Linked DNA regions of Homo sapiens: all the other regions are linked to region 2. The links come from fine-mapping of genetic effects on gene expression. A gene starts in region 2. Each other region holds a variant in brackets. All regions are shown on one strand. Distances are from middle to middle.

Region 1 (6,578 bases), 160 kb after region 2:
CCATTACTAAGGCAATTCTCTTTTGAGTACTCTACCAGAGACTCTAACCATTATGAATTTTTCAATCTGGCTGTTATCCTTGTCTTGTATGAGCTTCAGGATAAAGAAGATAAGGACTGAGAAAACAAGGTCAATACCTCATAAAAGCAAAACCAAGAAAGAACTCTTAAAAACTAAGGATATTATTTCAAAACTAACAACAAGAACATGGTAAATAGGTCAGATATTAAAGTCAAAGAGTAGAGCAGAAAATCTCCCAGAATAGAAAGAGCAAGATATAGAATATGAGCGAGAGAGAGAGAGAGAGAGAGAGAGAGAGAGAGAGAGAGAGAGAGAGGCATAGACGATCACTGTAGGAAGATGGTTCTTCTTTCTGCCTTTGGTAGTTTCTTCACACAAATGCATGGATCAGGACTCATTTGATGACCTGAGACAAATCCTCTGCAGATATCTGGATTTCTGTCTTTGTGCAGCAATCTCTTCCCCTCTACTCTGCCTTGCACACTCTAATTGCCCTCCCCGCCTTGGTTTCTCAACTCTATGTCCTTAACTTAAGGAGATTGTTGGGATCCCTCTGGGTTCTTCTCCATTCATCCTGGACACTTTTACAGGCCCTTTATTTCCCTTCTTGTGTAGAGCACTGTCTTATACCACCTGATGTCCAATGTCTAACAACCATTGTCTTCATATATTTTTTTCCCAGTGTTCTAGGCATGAAGATAAATTTGGCCCATTACTTCATCTTGGCCAGATGTTGAAATCCCTAGATATTATTTTCTATCCTGATTGTCTTTGGTTATTTAGCTTAGTGTCAAGAACCGTGCCCTGCTCGCAAACTAACGAGTAAGTCTGCCACAGTTACAGTGCTGGCAGAAGACATGAGACATCTAGATCAGAGAAAAAGGATATCTTGTTCATGGCACAGCAAAGAGCTTGAGCTTCATGTCCCATTTGTTCCTCTTGTCCTCCAAGTCCTATGAGGATATGTGGAGTGGCCTAGATGAATGGTGTGCACACAGTGGGTCTGCATCACAGCTGAGGATCCCTGGGCTCCAGTCTTATAAAGAAACTTCTGGCCAATTTGCCAAAACTTTGTTCTGAAAGGAGACTTAAAAAATTATTCTGGTCACTAAAAAACATTCTGCTCTCTGCCCCAGAGGGAGACACTATCTTTAACTTCCAATATGTTCACTATATAATCATTCTTGGGAAAGATAGTCTGGATGAAAACTGTCACAAGACATGTTGAACCTCTCTGGAGAATAGCTCCTCAACACTAAGCTTTAAAAATGAACTGGCTGAGGTCTTTTGGACTGTGGTTACTTCAACTACTTTATTTATTTATTTTATTTTATTATTATTATACTTTAAGTTTTAGGATACATGTGCAGAATGTGCAGGTTTGTTACATATGTATACATGTGCCATGTTGGTGTGCTGCACCCATTAACTCGTCATTTAGCATTACGTATATCTCCTAATGCTACCCCTCCCCCCTTTCCCCCACCCCACAACAGTCCCCAGAGTGTGATGTTCCCCTTCCTGTGTCCATATGTTCTCGTTGTTCAATTCCCACCTATGAGTGAGAACATGCGGTGTTTGGTTTTTTGTCCTCGCGATAGTTTGCTGAGAATGATGGTTTCCAGTTTCATCCATGTCCCTACAAAGGACATGAACTCATCATTTTTATGGCTGTATAGTATTCCATGGTGTATATGTGCCACATTTTCTTAATCCAGTCCATTGCTGTTGGACATTTGAGTTGGTTCCAAGTCTTTGCTATTGTGAATAGTGCCACAATAAACATACATGTGCATGTGTCATTATAGCAGCATGATTTATAGTCCTTTGGGTATATACCCAGTGATGGGATTGCTGGGTCAAATGGTATTTCTAGTTCTAGATCCCTGAGGAATCACCACACTGACTTCCACAATGGTTGAACTAGTTTACAGTCCCACCAACAGTGTAAAATTGTTCCTATTTCTCCACATCCTCTCCAGCAGCTGTTGTTTCCTGACTTTTTAATGATCGCCATTCTAACTGGTGTGAGATGGTATCTCATTGTGGTTTTGATTTGCATTTCTCTGATGGCCAGTGATGATGAGCATTTTTTCATGTGTTTTTTGGCTGCATAAATGTCTTCTTTTGAGAAGTGTCTGTTCATATCCTTCAACCACTTGTTGATGGGGTTGTTTGTTTTTTTCTTGTAAATTTGTTTGAGTTCATTGTAGATTCTGGATATTAGCCCTTTGTCAGATGAGTAGGTTGCGAAAATTTTCTCCCATTTTGTAGGTTGCCTGTTCACTCTGATGGTAGTTTCTTTTGCTGTGCAGATGCTCTTCAGTTTAATTAGATCCCATTTGTCAATTTTGGCTTTTGTTGCCATTGCTTTTGGTGTTTTAGACATGAAATCCTTGCCCATGCCTATGTCCTGAATGGTATTGCCTAGGTTTTCTTCTAGGATTTTTATGGTTTTAGGTCTAACATGTAAGTCTTTAATCCATCTTGAATTAATTTTTGTATAAGGTGCAAGGAAGGGATCCAGTTTCAGCTTCCTACGTATGGCTAGCCAGTTTTCCCAGCACCGTTTATTAAATAGGGAATCCTTTCCCCATTGCTTGTTTTTGTCAGGTTTGTCAAAGATCAGATGGTTGTAGATATGTGGCATTATTTCTGAGGGCTCTGTTCTGTTCCATTAACCTATATCTCTGTTTTGGTACCAGTACAATGCTGTTTTGGTTACTGTAGCCTTGTAGTATAGTTTGAAGTCAGGTAGCATGATGCCTCCAGCTTTATTCTTTTGGCTTAGGATTGACTTGGCAATGCGGGCTCTTTTTTGGTTCCATATGAACTTTAAAGTAGTTTTCTCCAATTCTGTGAAGAAAGTCATTCGTAGCTTGATGGGGATGGCATTGAATCTATAAATTACCTTGGGCAGTATGGCCATTTTCACGATATTGATTCTTCCTACCCATGAGCATGGAATGTTCTTCCATTTGT[T/G]TGTATCCTCTTTTATTTCCTTGAGCAGTGGTTTGTAGTTCTCCTTGAAGAAGTCCTTCACATCCCTTGTAAGATGGATTCCTAGGTATTTGATTCTCTTTGAAGCAATTGTGAATGGGAGTTCACTCATGATTTGGCTCTCTGTTTGTCTATTAGGTATATAAGAATGCTTGTGATTTTTGTACATTGATTTTGTATCCTGAGACTTTGCTGAAGTTGCTTATCAGCTTAAGGAGATTTTGGGCTGAGACAAGGGGTTTTCTAGATATACAATCATGTCATCTGCAAACAGGGACAATTTGACTTTCTCTTTTCCTAATTGAATACCCTTTATTTCCTTCTCCTGCCTAATTGCCCTGTCCAGAACTTCCAACACTATGTTGACTAGGAGTGATGAGAGAGGGCATCCCTGTCTTGTGCCAGTTTTCAAAGGGAATGCTTCCCGTTTTTGCCCATTCAGTATGATATTGGCTGTGGGTTTGTCATAGATAGCACTTATTCTTTTGAGATACGTCCCATCAATACCTAATTTATTGAGAGTTTTTAGCATGAAGGGTTGTTGAATTTTGTCAAAGGCCTTTTCTGCATCTATTGAGATAATGATGTGGTTTTTGTCTTTGGTTCTGTTTATATACTGGATTACATTTATTGATTTGTGTATGTTGAACCAGACTTGCATCCTAGGGATGAAGCCCACTCGATTATGGTGGATAAGCTTTTTGATGTGCTGCTGGATTCAAATGCTGAGAGATTTTGTCACCACCAGGCCTGCCCTAAAAGAGCTCCTGAAGGAAGCACTAAACATGGAAAGGAACAACCGGTACCAGCCACTGCAAAAACATGACAAAATGTAAAGACCATCAAGGCTAGGAAGATACTGCATCAACTAACGAGCAAAATAACCAGCTAACATCATAATGACAGGACCAAATTCACACATAATATATTAACTTTAAATGTAAATGGGCTAAATGCTCCAATTAAAAGACACAGACTGGCAAATTGGATAAAGAATCAAGACCCATCAGTGTGCTGTATTCAGATACCCATCTCACATGCAAAGAAACACATAGGCTCAAAATAAAGGGATGCAGGAAGATCTACCAAGCAAATGGAAAACAAAAAAAGGCAGGGGTTTCAATCCTAGTCTCTGATAAAACAGACTTTAAACCAACAAAGATCAAAAGAGACAAGGCTATTACATACTGGTAAAGGGATCAATTCAACAAGAAGAGCTAACTATCCTAAATATATATGCACCCAATACAGGAGCACCCAGATTCATAAAGCAAGTCCTGAGTGACCTACAGAAAGACTTAGACTCCCACACAATAATAATGGGAGACTTTAACACCCCACTGTCAACATTAGACAGATCAACGAGACAGAAAGTTAACAAGGATACCCAGGAATTGAACTCAGCTCTGCACCAAGCGGACCTAATAGACATCTACAGAACTCTCCACCCCAAATCAACAGAATATACATTTTTTTCAGCACCACACCACACCTATTCCAAAATTGACCACATAGTTGGAAGTAAAGCGCTCCTCAGCAAATGTAAAAGAACAAAAATTATAACAAACTGTCTCTCAGACCACAGTGCAATCAAACTAGAACTCAGGATTAAGAAACTCACTCAAAACTGCTCCACTACATGGAAACTGAACAACCTGCTCCTGAATGACTACTGGGTATGTAACGAAATGAAGGCAGAAATAAAGATGTTCTTTGAAACCAACGAGAACAAAGACAAAACATACCAGAATCTCTGGGACACATTCAAAGCAGTGTGTAGAGGGAAATTTATAGCACTAAATGCCCACAAGAGAAAGCAGGAAAGATCCAAAATTGACACCCTAACATCACAATTAAAAGAACTAGAAAAGCAAGAGCAAACACATTCAAAAGCTAGCAGAAGGCAAGAAATAACTAAAATCAGAGCAGAACTGAAGGAAATGGAGACACAAAAAACCCTTCAAAAAATTAATGAATCCAGGAGCTGGTTTTTTGAAAAGATCAACAAAATTGATAGACCGCTAGCAAGACTAATAAAGAAGAAAAGAGAGAAGAATCAAATAGATGCAATAAAAAATAATAAAGGGGATATTACCACTGATCCCACAGAAATAGAAACTACCATCAGAGAATACTACAAGCACCTCTACACAAATAAACTAGAAAATCTAGAAGAAATGGATAAATTCCTTGACACATACACCCTCCCAAGACTAAACCAGGAAGAAGTTGAATCTCTGAATAGACCAATAACAGGCTCTGAAGTTGTGGCAATAATCAATAGCTTACCAACCAAAAAAAGTCCAGGACCAGATGGATTCACAGCCGAATTCCATCAGAGGTACAAGGAGAAGCTGGTACCATTCCTTCTGAAACTATTCCAATCAATAGAAAAAGAGGGAATCCTCCCTAACTCATTTTATGAGGCCAGCATCATCCTGATATCAAAGCTGGGCAGAGACACAACCAAAAAAGATAATTTTAGACCAATATCCTTGATGAACATGGATGCAAAAATCCTCAATAAAATACTGGCAAATCAACTACTTTTTTAAAATCAGGTATCGAGGGATGCAATTACTTATGCAGGATATCTTTAAATAAGGGCCAGACTCAGTTTGACAATGAACAGCATTTAGAACACACACATTGATTACTTACCATTTATTCAATTTTAACAAATAGGATGCATTATAACCATTGGAAAGCACTAAAGTTACTTACTTTTTCAAGGTAAATGACCAAGCAAAGTAGGATTCTGCTTTTTGAAGTTAATCTCAACTTCAATATAGGCAAATATTCACAGTGTAGATTCACATATGGTAAGTTATTGAAATTCAGTAAGGTATATTGATACTGTTGAGCACAAAAAAATGATCATTTCCAATTTAAATGTTATGTGTCTTGTCATCAGGCCGGGCCTGTGCTAAAATTGAGAGGTAAGGCTGGGAGAGAGAAGGCTGCCAAAGTGCAGTGAGAATCTTGTCCTTTCATTGGAGAATTTCTTGGGCTTTGATAACATTTCTCATGTGTTGTCTGAAAGAAGCAATTCTAATTATGTGTAACAAAAAGTAGATATGTCATAGTTAGATTTGATTAAAGAAACAAAGCTGATAATATTGACTTCATTATTTGGCAAAGTCCCATAGGAAACTAGAACTATTAGGCAAAACTATCTGGAAATGTCATAAGCATGTCAATAGAAGTCATTCAAAGGCTTAGTCAGCTCATATAACTGTTTAGACACATTGCATTCTCTGAGGTGGGTCTTATCAGGTATTCAAGAAAGGCTCAGGACAGATGTGGAGATATCTTGCCTGTTGTATGGTTTTGTGCTAGAAAGAATGAGAAGGGCTAATATTTGCAAATGACTTTGAGAGTAAGTTTCTGTCTCACCTGTAAATGTCTCTAAAGCTTTTTCTGGATGTCCTGGAAAAGTTTGTAAGTTCCCATCAGCCAGGGCTTCTTGCATTGGGGAATGCAGACACAACAGGACACATCAGGAAGCCTGTGAATCTGTAAAATTTGGTGTGGTTGGATGTGTTGCATTTTTGAGG
Region 2 (6,437 bases):
ATATTGGTTCAATTCATTTGATAATTTTGTTTCATTGTCTTATGTAATTCCCCAAAAGGCATAAGATAATCACAGTACAAACTGGACACTATATTAACTGAATTCCCAAATTCATATACATTTAAACTACAGTTTGCTGTAGTGTTAACATGAGCAAATTCAATTCAAGTTTGACGCTACTGGAGAATAAAACTAATTCAATTTTTATTTTGTGGATTACACAAGAAAATTTTTTAAAAACCCTAGAAATAATACAACTTTTACTAAATTCACATTTTCAGTGAAAAAAATCTTTACAATTCACTTGCATTATTTTTTCCTTCCTAAAAAGTTACTGTAAGGTCCACAAAGTTTAGTTAAAAATTTCAGTGTGGGGTTATACCCCATCTCCAATATCAAAGGCCAAATAAATCTGGGAAATACGGGGTTAAATCAAGTTCAACATGATCTTTTGCTACAAACATTCTCAGAGATAGAGCCATTAGTACAGTAGTATTTCCCTATAAACTGAAAGTGGATTAGATTGTTTTCCTCCCCCAAACATCTCTTTGCATCTTGAGGCTGGGCTTCAAGGGAGACAATCCTGGAAATATTGCCATGGATTGTGAATTACTTGGGGTTATCAGTTTTTTTTTCTTTTGAGACGGAGTTTCGCTCTTGTTGCTCAGGCTGTGGTGCAATGGTGTGATCTCGGCTCACCTCAACCTCCACCTCCCAGGTTCAAGCGATTCACCTGCCTCAGCCTCCCGAGCAGCTGAGATCACAGGCATGCGCCGCCACGCGCAGCTAATTTTGTATTTTTAGTACAGACGGGGTTTCTCCATGTTGGTCAGGCTGGTCTCAGACTGCCGACCTCAGGTGATCTGCCCGCCTCAGCCTCCCAAAGTGCTGGGATTACAGGCGTGAGCCACCGCGCCTGGTGGGGTTATCAATTTTTTTTCCATTAATTAAAATACTGGAAAGCAGCCGAATCATTAATGAATAAGTCCTTCAGGTCTAAAGTAAAATGAGCACAAAACAACTGCTGAAAATCTGAACCAGGTTAGATCTAAATGAATTGTTTTTAAATACAAGAAAAAATGGAAATGCAGTATTTTAAATATGTTGCTTTTCATGTGTTATTAATCATGTGAGTACTATTAACATCTCCATGTTACAGATGAGATATGTGAGACACCAAAGCTTAAATACTTTCCAAGAGGTCATTAAGCTACAGAATAGTGGAACCAGGATCTAGCATTGAAGCCTGGACCCCTAATTATTATACGACACTGCTTGTCTGTACTTCTGAATAAAAATCAGTGCTTCAGTAGTTTGATGGAAATATATCGTGGCTCTAGTAATTCAGAGTAACAGAATAAAACCTTGTTCTCCGCAGAGTATCTACAGCCCTAAGCAGAAGACTAGTTTATAATTCTGGCTCTGACACTAAACTTTCAAGGTCGGTTACCTAATCATTCCGGGCCTCAGTTTCCTCAGGAGAAAAGTGGGATGAAATTATACCTATGCGACCTACCTCGCGGGGGGTGTAAATTAACTTTGCGTGCACCTTTCCACTTCGCAGGTTTCACGTATCTTAAATGGTGGTTAATGTTGTTCAATGAAATGAGATCACGTGAAGTGGGGAAAAGACTGAAAACCACAGAAGCCCGCGCAAACTTTACTGTTTTAACTGTTAACACCCAAACAGGCTCCTGGGCCTCGCCACCAGCCAGCAGTCCTCGCGCAAGAAGGGCATTGCTAGCTAAACTGAACTAGCGCCTTCCCTCCGTCTTGCCGCGGGCGACGGGCCACGTACGGAGAGCTGAGGACTCACTGGCAGAGCGGACAGGAGACACCCAAGCCCAAAGGCCACAGGTCCAAGGCCTCACGGCGAGGCTGACGCTTCTGCTCCAGAAACAACTTACGGATAAAAACTCAGCTTCCGGTCTTTATTGTTTCGTCCCCGGCGGTTCTTACAACAAATCGCTGCGCAATAGCGGGGCATGACTCGGGTGAGGCCCCTGGAGACCGGGGCCGGCGACGGATGCAGGGCGGCCCTCCTCACTGAGGATGCGCCACAGGTCCAGGCCTCTCGAGCCCCTGCGCCTGCGCTAGCATTCTGCCGGGAAAGCCGCCTCGTCTGTCGACTCACTTCCGCCTCCTCCGGTTTAAGCACCGCCTTTTCGGGGGTTGAAGCCGGAAGTGGCGCACAGCCCTAGCAGCAACAACAGTTTTCCACGTGCGCGTAGGGCGCCGGGATCACGTGGGGAGGCAGAAGCCAATGGGGAAGCGTTTCGTGTAGGTCTTCTGAGGTGGTGGCGCCAGCGGCTACCTCCTGCCTGTGAGGAGCTGGCTGAGAGGGGACTGGGCGCCGGCGGGGAAGGAGGAGCGCTAGGTCGGTGTACGACCGAGATTAGGGTGCGTGCCAGCTCCGGGAGGCCGCGGTGAGGGGCCGGGCCCAAGCTGCCGACCCGAGCCGATCGTCAGGGTCGCCAGCGCCTCAGCTCTGTGGAGGAGCAGCAGTAGTCGGAGGGTGCAGGTGAGGGACGAGGCCGGGGTCGTGGGGAGGGGAGTTCGGAGGGTCCCCGTAGCCCAGGCCTGTCTTTGTGAGCTGACTTGGCCTCGGTGTCCGCCACGGTCGCCGCAGGGACAATGGGCTGCATGTTTTTGGCCGAGAGAATGGAAGAACGGAGACAGCCGCATCACAGAATCGTGTTTTGGGTTGTGGCGCCGGCTTTCACGGGCGCCGGATTAGAGCCCGGGTCTCGGGCAGCTTCTGCGGCGGGGCCTGGGCGGGCAGGGAAAGTGCCAGTCGCCTTTAGGTGAAGGTTGGAGGGTCTAGCCCAGCCGCCCACCGAGGCTGGGGAATAAGGCACGGGCTGCTGGCTGGCGGGGCCGTCTTGGGGATGAGAAGTCTGTACAATACAAAACTAGTCTGCTAAAAAAAAATCATTAGATGTCCACCTTGAGACCGTGGAATAACGTCTGCTGAACCAGTGAGGCGCCTCCCTGTCAGTTTTAGATCCGCCCTTTGACTAGGGAGCAACCTGCAGTTGACGCAGCGTCCATGGGACACACTGTTGTGTTCCTTAAACCGAGAAGTGGTTCTTGATTCTTGGTACCCGTGACTACGAGTAACTCTCTGGAAATAAGTAATCTACCTGCCTGCTAATTACTCTCAGGAAAGGCCGCTGGAGAGGAAGCCAGGCAATTTCCACAAACCGTAGTGTTTTTCGTCAGCCTTATTATGGCATTATAGGTTACTAAGGACTCTGGTGGTCCCGTATTCAAAAAACAGGATCCATCCCTTCGTTTTGAATCTCAAGTCATTGAATACATATTGTCAAGAATTCTAAGTTAACATTTCTTTAATGGTTTAAAGGTAAAAGAAATATTTTAACTACTGAGTTTGTGAAAGTAAGAATCTGCCTTAACCACAGTACAAACTATCAAAGTTCATTTTTCTGGCAGCTTTAGCAGAAATCTTAAATTCTGTTCATCATGAGTTTTAAACAATATTTAGCCATGCTTCCTGGTTAAACATTTGGGATCTTACATTTGGGAAAAAGACAACATTCTATTGTATTGTCAGTATTAGTATTGTGATATTAAGATTCTCTATTTGCAGTCCTTGGCTCACCTGCTGAAATGAAAGCTGAATTTTTGGAGCGAGATTAATAATACTAATTTAGATATACTGGGCTATTTACCTTGGTGCGCCACCTTTTTTTTTTAATGTTTTTTTTTTCTGTGAAGTTAAATACATTATTACTTTCAGGATATGAAGTCTTGAAAGGAAAGTTGGGATCTTATATTATTTGGTTTTCTTTTTTTTTCTTACAATGCTTGCATATGATGAATCTTCAATATAAACTGGTTAAAAGTCAGTTATTGATAATTTTCTATCTCCTCTGTGTATGGCCAGAGTATTAGTAGACAGACAAAGCCAAGAATTATTTTTGTTCTCAATAAGGTTAAGCCAGTTTGAGAGTTATAAAACTAAAAGTGAAATTACATGTGGACAGGTAATAGATACTGTATGCTTACTATTTTGATACTGCATTAGGTTTACCTTGTGTTGGATTTCTTTTAAAAGAAAAACGTTTTAAGATTAGCTCCATCCATAACATTTTTTTTTCTTTTCTGTTTTAGGATATTAGAAATGGCTACTCCCCAGTCAATTTTCATCTTTGCAATCTGCATTTTAATGATAACAGAATTAATTCTGGCCTCAAAAAGCTACTATGATATCTTAGGTGTGCCAAAATCGGCATCAGAGCGCCAAATCAAGAAGGCCTTTCACAAGTTGGCCATGAAGTACCACCCTGACAAAAATAAGAGCCCGGATGCTGAAGCAAAATTCAGAGAGATTGCAGAAGGTAAATAAATGACAATCTCTGAAGTGTCATGGGTATTAACTAGTAAGGAGAATGATAGCTAAGAAGTGTTTGTATTTGAAGGTTTTGTGGAGATGGGAGGTGGAGTGGGATTTATGTATAAATATTGGGTGATTCTCTGAGATTATTTTCTTATCACAGATGCTTTGATTCCTGAATAAATATATGAAAGAATAATAGATAATTTTATTGGTATACGTATCTAAAAATATTGAAAATCTATTCTATATTATTTATAAGATCACTGTTGCTTCTATGACAAAAAAGAATTTTAGGTACCCAAAATTCTTATCAACTAACTTATGAAACAGAATATTTTACATTTTAAACATTAAAGACTTAAAAATTAAACTAGACTCTAAAGTGCTTTATTCACTTGATCTGCTTTTCAAAGCCATATTTGTCTTCAAAGAAAAAATTGGAACAAATTTTGACTTCAGACTAGCTCTAAAACAAATTGCACCTGCTGAGCATTCAGTAATTATTGTTGGATGGAGGTAACTGAGTAGGGAGTTAGAATTAAACAGTTTACTTTAGTAAGGAGGTGCAAAATCTTAATTCCTATTAATTGGTTATAGTTGATGGTTTAATTTTTTAATACAATTAATGATTTCACACGAATAATATGAAGATTAAAGAACTCTGATTGTTGCCCACATGTTTATTTGTAGTAATGGTAACATTTAATAACTTTATTGAGTATTGCAGATGGCATTGTGCCAACTGCTGATAACTCAGCAGTTAATAAGACAGTTTCTGCTTTATTTTATAATTTTGATTAACTTGATGCTTATATTTGTAGTGTTTTGCTTTTATTTCTGATGCGAAATTCTTCCCTAAAATAATAGTATTCAGTTCACTTGCTTGAAGAGATTTGAATATATGTAATTTTGAATATTTTACCTTCAGTTACTAAAAATATTTTTGTCACTTTCAGCATATGAAACACTCTCAGATGCTAATAGACGAAAAGAGTATGATACACTTGGACACAGTGCTTTTACTAGTGGTAAAGGACAAAGAGGTAGTGGAAGTTCTTTTGAGCAGTCATTTAACTTCAATTTTGATGACTTATTTAAAGACTTTGGCTTTTTTGGTCAAAACCAAAACACTGGATCCAAGAAGCGTTTTGAAAATCATTTCCAGACACGCCAGGATGGTGGTTCCAGTAGACAAAGGCATCATTTCCAAGAATTTTCTTTTGGAGGTGGATTATTTGATGACATGTTTGAAGATATGGAGAAAATGTTTTCTTTTAGTGGTTTTGACTCTACCAATCAGCATACAGTACAGACTGAAAATAGATTTCATGGATCTAGCAAGCACTGCAGGACTGTCACTCAACGAAGAGGAAATATGGTTACTACATACACTGACTGTTCAGGACAGTAGTTCTTATTCTATTCTCACTAAATCCAACTGGTTGACTCTTCCTCATTATCTTTGATGCTAAACAATTTTCTGTGAACTATTTTGACAAGTGCATGATTTCACTTTAAACAATTTGATATAGCTATTAAATATATTTAAGGGTTTTTTTTTTTTGACAAATTCAACATTCAACGAGTAGACAAAATGCTAATTATTTCCCTGATTAGGAAAGTTTCTTTAAAAAACACGTAATTTTGCCTAGTGCTTTTTCTCTACCTGCCCTTGGGCTCACTAATATCACCAGTATTATTACCAAGAAAATATTGAGTTTACCTGATTAAACTTTAAAAGTTAATTGTAGATTTAAATTGTGTGAACCTAATGATTTTTGCAGTGAAACCTTTACTAATTCAAAGTTGCATGTTCTATGACATCTGTGACTTGCGTTGCAGAGTGTACATGAAACTGTATAATTGAGTCATTCAGTAAAGGAGAACAGTATCTTGGTTAATTGCTACTGAAAGGTTGAGAAAGGAATGGTTTGATATTTACCACAGCGCTGTGCCTTTCTACAGTAGAACTGGGGTAAAGGAAATGGTTTTATTGCCCATAGTCATTTAGGCTGGAAAAAAGTTGAAAACTTAACGAAATATTGCCAAGAGATTGTTATGTGTTTGGTTCCAGCCT
Region 3 (6,578 bases), 28 kb before region 2:
CTGTGACATTACGTTCCGCTGGCCTAGAGGTCTTAGTTCCAGAGGGAGGAACGCTGCCACCTGGAGACACAATGATTCCATTAAACTGGAAGTTATGATTGCCACCTGGACACTTGGGCTCCTCCTACCTTTAAGTCAACAGGCTAAGAAGGGAGTTACAGTGTTGGCTGGGGTGATTGACCCGGACTATCAAGATGAAATCTGTCGACTACTCCACAAGGGAGGTAAGGAAGAGTACACATAGAATATAGGAGATCCATTAGGGCATCTCTTAATATTACCATGCCCTGTGATTAAGGTCAATGGGAAACTACAACAGCCCAATCCAGGCAGGACTACAAATAGCCCAGACCCTTCAGGAATGAAGGTTTGGGTCACTCCACCAGGAAAAAAACCATGACCTGCTGAGGTGCTTGCTGAAAGCAAAGGGAATACAGAATGGTGGTAGAAGAAGGTAGTTGTCAATACCAGCTACGACCACGTGACCAGCTGCAGAAACGAGGACTGCAATTGTCATGAATATTTCCTTCTTTTGTTAAAAACACGTTTATGCATGTATACACTTGTACTAAGAAAACATCTTCATTTTATTTCCTTTCTCCTTTATCATGGGACATAAGATTTATTGACTTCACATCAGCATTTAAGTATGTTAACTTTATGTAATAGTATTTGGGTTGGGGATTGATGCGTTTCTGGTTGTACAAAGAATAGTCGTATTATGTTAGGAGTAATTATGACCTTATTATTGTCTTTACTTAAAGATTATGTATGATCTCAGGAGATTTGTATGGGTTCAAGTTGACAAGGGGTGGACTTTTGATGGTTAATACTGAGTGTCAACTTGATTGGATTGGTAGATGTAAAGTATTGATCCTGGGTGTGTCTGTGAGGGTGTTGCCAAAGCCCACCCTTAATCTGGTGCATACCATCTAATCAGCTGCCAAAGCAACTAGAACATAAAGCAGGCAGAAAAACATGAAAAGACTAGACTTGCCTAGCCTCCCAGCCTACATCTTTCTCCTGTGCTGGGTGCTTCCTGCCCTGGAACATCAGACTCCCAAGTTCTTCAGTTTTGGGACTTGGACTGGCTTTCCTTGCTCCTCAGCTTGCAGATGGCCTATTGTGGAACCTTGTGATCATGTGAGTTAATACTTAATAAACTCTCCTTTATATATATATATATATATATATATATATATATATATATAGATGGATGCATGTATAGATATATATGTGTGTATATATATAATATATGTAGCTATCCTATTAGTTCTGTCCCTCTAGAGAACCCTGACTAATACAAATGCCCATTACGTATTTGTTGATAAGAGAATTAATTAATCCTCCAAGGTATGGGTGGGAGAAATAGGTTCCACAATGCATATGAATAGTCCACAACGTGGCTTTTGATCTATACATCTATTAAAAAAACCCAGTTTTTATTTTATTATAACTTTTATTGCATCACAATGCAAGTATAAGCCATAAATCAATTTAGTCTGCTCAGTGAATATCTCTATATTTTACTAGTCTCAAGTGATAAGATAGCTTTTCTACTCATTTACTGACCATGATTGCCAAATACAAGACACTCCACTAATGACATAGATTTTTGTGTATTCTGAGAAATGAACTCTAACATGGTCATGAACTTATTTAGCCATTAAAGTTTTTTTTTTATTTTCTTGTTTTTTTATTTTTTTGAGACAGAGTTTCTCTCTTGTTGCCTAGGCTGGAGTGCAATGGCGTGATCTCAGCTCACTGCAACCTCCACCTCCCAGGTTCAAGCAATTTTCCTGCCTCAGCCTCCTGAGTAGCTGGGATTAGAGGCACCTGCCACCATGCCCAACTAATTTTTTGTATTTTTAGTAGAGATGGGGTTTCACCATGTTGGCCAGGCTGGTTTTGAACTCCTGACCTCAGGCGATCCACCTGCCTTGGCCTCCCATAGTGCTGGGATTACAGGCATGAGCCACCATGCCCAGCACCATTGAGTTTTAATATATATACAATTTAGTATTTACAAGCCATTTTATTTATAAGTGTGCACTCTAGTTAATGACTTTTGTTAAGGCATTTGAAAAATACGTTGAAAATTGTTCTTTGGAGCTAAAAATAAGGCTGGAAGTTTAAGTTGTTCAAGTCAATTTCCAGTTACTCTGCTCTTTATTTTCTCTAGTAATCTGAGCAATTTGGCAACACCACTTTAGAGCTAACATGAAAAGACCTAGCTTTATAGAAGCATGGCATCCATTTGAGCCTAGTAATAATTTTTAATATGCCCCAAGGAGATGAATGTTTAATGGCAACCATTTCTATTTAAAAAAAAAAAAAAAGAATGATCATTCCTTGAGCAGAAAAGGAATCTATGAGTTTAGATATTGACTGTATTTTCTGTTGCTATACAATTATTCTGCATTAAAGAATTAAAAGGAAGATTAAAAACTCACAATAGACACATTCAATTACTTCACGTATAATTTCCAATTAAATAAGTTCTAACTAAACCAAATTAGTTGTTAGGCTTTTACCAAAAGTAATTTATGATCCAGGTGGTTTAAAAAGCGCTAGAGACTTGATTAAATTTAGCATTCTTATGTATATGCTCACTTTTGTTGTTTTGCTAATGATTCTCTGCAAAAACAGTTGCAAAGCTCAAAGTAACTTTTAAGTTGTATGGGGCTCTGTAGGCATCCAGTGAAAAGGTCTTTAATACAGCAGTAAGACAGAATTCCTCAAGAAGCAAATCCCCTGTTGCAGGTTCATTCAATCATATAAATGCATTTCAAAGCATCCTGAAATTGAGCCAGCCCATTATGTTTACCAGCTAAAACTTTACAGCTTAACCCTTAAGTTACAACTGTAATATTTCCTTATATGTGAAGATGTTTTTCTTTTCTCTTCAAGATGACATTCAATAATCTGACAGTCCTGTTCATTGCAGCACCTTGAACACAAAAATAAGTCTGAATTGGCTGAAGATCAGGAAAAAAAACCCTTAAATTCAAACAAATGTTTTGGCAAGAACTTTCATAGTTTGTCGAATTTGTATTGCTATTCTGTCACTGTGGAGGGGATAACAGAATTGCTTAGGATCTATATCTATATCTATATCTAGATTTAGATATAGATATATATTATGTAGCATGGTGGACTTGAGTGGCATTTTTCCAGGTTCTTTCCCAACTAATTTGTAATATCACAAATGT[C/T]TATAAGGCTAGATGGTAAAGATGTTTGCCTCCATTTATAAAATAATCATGGCACTCAGGTTATCTTTTTCTGCATAACAATCCTGAAACTTAGTAGTTGAAAAAAACAAGCATTTTATTATATTTCACAATTTCCCTGGTCAGATATTTAGGCATGGCTTGGCATCTTCTGTTTCTTTTTTTTGTTTGTTTTGTTTTGTTTTTGGAGACAGAGTTTTGCTCTTGGTGCCCAGGCTGGAGTGCAGTGGCACGATCTCGGCTCACTGTAACCTCCACCTCCTGGGTTCAAGCGATTCTCCTGCCTCAGCCTCCTGAGTAGCTGGAATTACAGGCATGTGCCACCACGCCCAGCTAATTTTTGTTTTATTGGTAGAGACAGGGTTTCACCACATTGGCCAGTCTGGTCTGTAACTCCTGACCTCAAGTGATCCATCTGCCTCGGCCTCTCAAAGTGCTGGGATTACAGGCGTGAGCCACTGTGCCTGGCCAAGCATCTTCTGTTTCATATGGCATTGACTGAAGTCACTTAGTGGCATTCAGCTGGCAGATGGGCTGGTCTGGAGAATTCAAAATGGCTTCCCTTACATATCTGGTGCCTTGGTGGGAATGGCTAGAAGACTAGGCTCAAAACTTTTTTTTTTAAATTTAATTTATTTTATTTTATTTTTTTGAGATGGAGTCTCGCTTTGTCACCCAGGCTGGAGTGCAGTGGCACGATCTCGGCTCATTGGAACCTCCGTCTCCCAGGTTCAAGCAATTCGCCTGCCTGAGCCTCCCGAGTAGGTGGGATTACAGGTGCCTGTCACCACGCCCGGCTAATTTTTTTGTATTTTTAGTAGAGACTGAGTTTCACCGTATTAGCCAGGATTGTCTCGATCTCCTGACCTCATGATCCGCCCGCCTCAGCCTCCCAAAGTGCTGGGATTACCTGTGTGAGCCACTGTGCCCAGCCAGCTCAAAACAATTGACTGGAACAGTATCACAGGGCTTCCAGAGCATGGTGAGCTCAGGGTTGTCTGACTTCTTATATAGCAAATTGCTTTCCCAAGAATGAGTGTTGCAAGAGGCCCAGGCAGAAGCTGCAAGGCTTTTTATGAGCTAGGTTTGGGAGCCCTAGAACATCAAGCAAGTCACTAAGGCCAGTCCGGATTCAAGAGAAGGGAAGAATAGGTTCTGCCCTCTATCTCTTGATGGAGTAAGGCATGCTTAGCCAGGAAGAAAAGAAGTTGATGGTGATCATCTGCCATCACGATGGTACTACAAACATCACAACTAGGGACTGATGATAAGCAGTCTATCACCAAATGATTACTTTCCAAGAGAAAGTCGTCTTTAAAATGTTGCAATTTGCAGTAGCTGTGATCTTCAGTTTTGCATATCTAGGTCTGAAATATCTCCCAGTATTTTTTATTGCTATACTAAATTGTTCCAGCCAAGGATATCCAAGACCTATGTGATCAGGATTTTCCTGGGTTGGCCCTATTTTTTTTATCCCAGTGATAGTTTTGACCATCTGGCATGCAAAATTTTGTGGGATATTTAGGTAAACATACACATAGGTAAACACAATGTATTGCACATCAGAAGTTAACAGCAAATCATGCCAGTTTGAGCTAGGAAGTTATACAAGTCACCACTGGGACCTCATTTTCCTATATATAATGGGGGGTAGGCTGGGCTAAAATATAAAAAAAATTATGAACGACTATATGCCAATAAATTTGACAACTTAGATGAAATGGATAGTCTTTGAAAAATATAACTTACCAAAACTAACACAAGATCAAAAAGAAATTCTGAATAATCTTTTTTCTATTAAAGTAATTGCATTTGTTTTCAAAAACTTCTCCACAAAGAAAATTCTAAGCCTAAGTGATTTTCCTGATGAAGTCTACTAAACATTTAAGGAAGAAAAGGAGACAATTCATGGTCCAAACTGTCAATAATCTTCTAAATAAAGAAGGACATTGGGCCAGGGACGCTGGTTTACATCTGTAATCCCAGCACTTTGGGAGGCCGAGGCGGGTGGATCACCTCAGGTCAGTCAGGAGTTCAAGATCAGCCTGGCCAACATGGTGAAACCCCATCTCTACTAAAAATACAAAAATTAGCTGGGCATGGTGGCAGGCGCCTGTAATCCCAGCTACTCAGGAGGCCAAGGCAAGAGAATTGCTTGAACCTGGGAGGCAGAGGTTGCAGAGAGCCGAGATCGCGCCACTGCACTCCAGCCTGGGTGACAGAGCAAGACTCCATCTCAAAAAAAAAACAAAAACAAAAACAAAGAAGGTCATTGATATAGAATAGGTAAACAACAACAACAACATATGGGGAGTAAAAAACGCTTATGAAACAAACTCTCCATAAATTCTTTAGTAATTAATTAATTAATTAATTAATTATGAGACAGGGTCTCACTCTGTCACCCAGGCTGGAGTAGCAGAGGTGCAATCTCAGCTCACTACAACTTCTGCCTCTTGGGCTTAAGCAATTCTCCTGCCTCAGCCTCCTGAATAACTGGGGCTACAGGGGCACATCACCATGCCCAGCTAATTTTTGTAATTTTTTATAGAGACGGGGTTTCATCATGTTGCCCAGGCTGGTCTTGAACTCCTGGGCTCAAGCAGTCTGCTAGTCCCAAAGTGCTGGGATTACAGGCATGAGCCACTACGCCTGGCCTAGATTCTCTGTAAATTCCACACTTGAAATGCAGTAATGCAAGTTTAGAAGGAAGAGGCAATCAAAGGAAACTAGTAGAGATATTTTCAGAAAAAAAATAAATTATATTTAGTTTTATTTTTGTCTTATTTAGAAAGATATAGATTGCTATAGTTTGTTGAATTTGAGGCTACCTTTTTAAAAATAGACACACTGCCAAGAATGACAAAAACAGTTGGATTGCTCCATAAAATGAATTGATATAAGATTTAAAAAGACCAGTAAATGAAGCATAGCATTATTAATATTACTATGTAGTGTTAAGAATGTCTATACTGTTTTTAAAGTGTAGTGAAAGTGACTTTTCATGTCTAATAGATTAGTATAGTTCCCAGAACAATTGTAAACCGCAAATTTTTGTTATTTTGAGGGAGTTGGCAGCAAAACATTCCACAGCATTAAGATAGAATGGCAGCTTCTAAGTCTCAAGTGACAATTTGCTGTCAGTTCCATTGTGAAAAGCGTGACTAGTTCAAATATTTACAGACAATTTTAGGAATAATATATCTGTGAAGATAGAGAATAAATTTAGGTAGAGCTTAAGCTTCATAGAATAAAATCCTAATCAAGAGATAAGTCATTCAAGATGAAGATAATTGTCTAGAAAAATATCTATTTAGAAAAATATCAAAGTCTTGACTTAAAAATTCA

Direction of the effects. Positions count from the first base shown, and alleles are read on the strand shown. Sizes are in standard deviations (SD) of each study's normalised expression. Not every link is listed here.
As copies of C replace T in region 3, the expression in prefrontal cortex of the gene that starts at base 2,124 in region 2 goes down (moderate effect, 0.45 SD a copy in GTEx).

Evidence for each region. PIP is the estimated chance that this variant, and not a neighbour inherited with it, causes the effect. A credible set is the group of variants that fine-mapping cannot tell apart.
Region 1: its variant is the best candidate, but not a certain one, in a credible set for the expression of THAP5 in substantia nigra (GTEx, PIP 0.62).
Region 3: its variant is the best candidate, but not a certain one, in a credible set for the expression of THAP5 in prefrontal cortex (GTEx, PIP 0.55).

Annotation. Positions count from the first base shown.
Region 1 is chr7:108,725,608-108,732,185 of GRCh38, forward strand. No RefSeq gene overlaps it. Among named protein-coding and RNA genes, the nearest start is that of LINC02903, 160 kb to the right of the region's middle. The variant T/G (reference allele first, on the strand shown) is at 3,004.
Region 2 is chr7:108,567,583-108,574,019 of GRCh38, forward strand. It overlaps THAP5 (THAP domain containing 5), which reads right to left and starts at 2,124. Exons shown (of 3, transcript NM_001130475.3): 1 at 1,908-2,124. The coding sequence starts at 1,987. It overlaps DNAJB9 (DnaJ heat shock protein family (Hsp40) member B9), which reads left to right and starts at 2,292. Exons shown (of 3, transcript NM_012328.3): 1 at 2,292-2,521; 2 at 4,135-4,361; 3 at 5,317-6,437. The coding sequence starts at 4,145. The coding sequence ends at 5,771. RefSeq lists enhancers at 1,707-2,186, 1,720-2,447.
Region 3 is chr7:108,539,063-108,545,640 of GRCh38, forward strand. It overlaps a transcript of THAP5 not described here. Among named protein-coding and RNA genes, the nearest start is that of PNPLA8, 16 kb to the left of the region's middle. The variant C/T (reference allele first, on the strand shown) is at 3,213.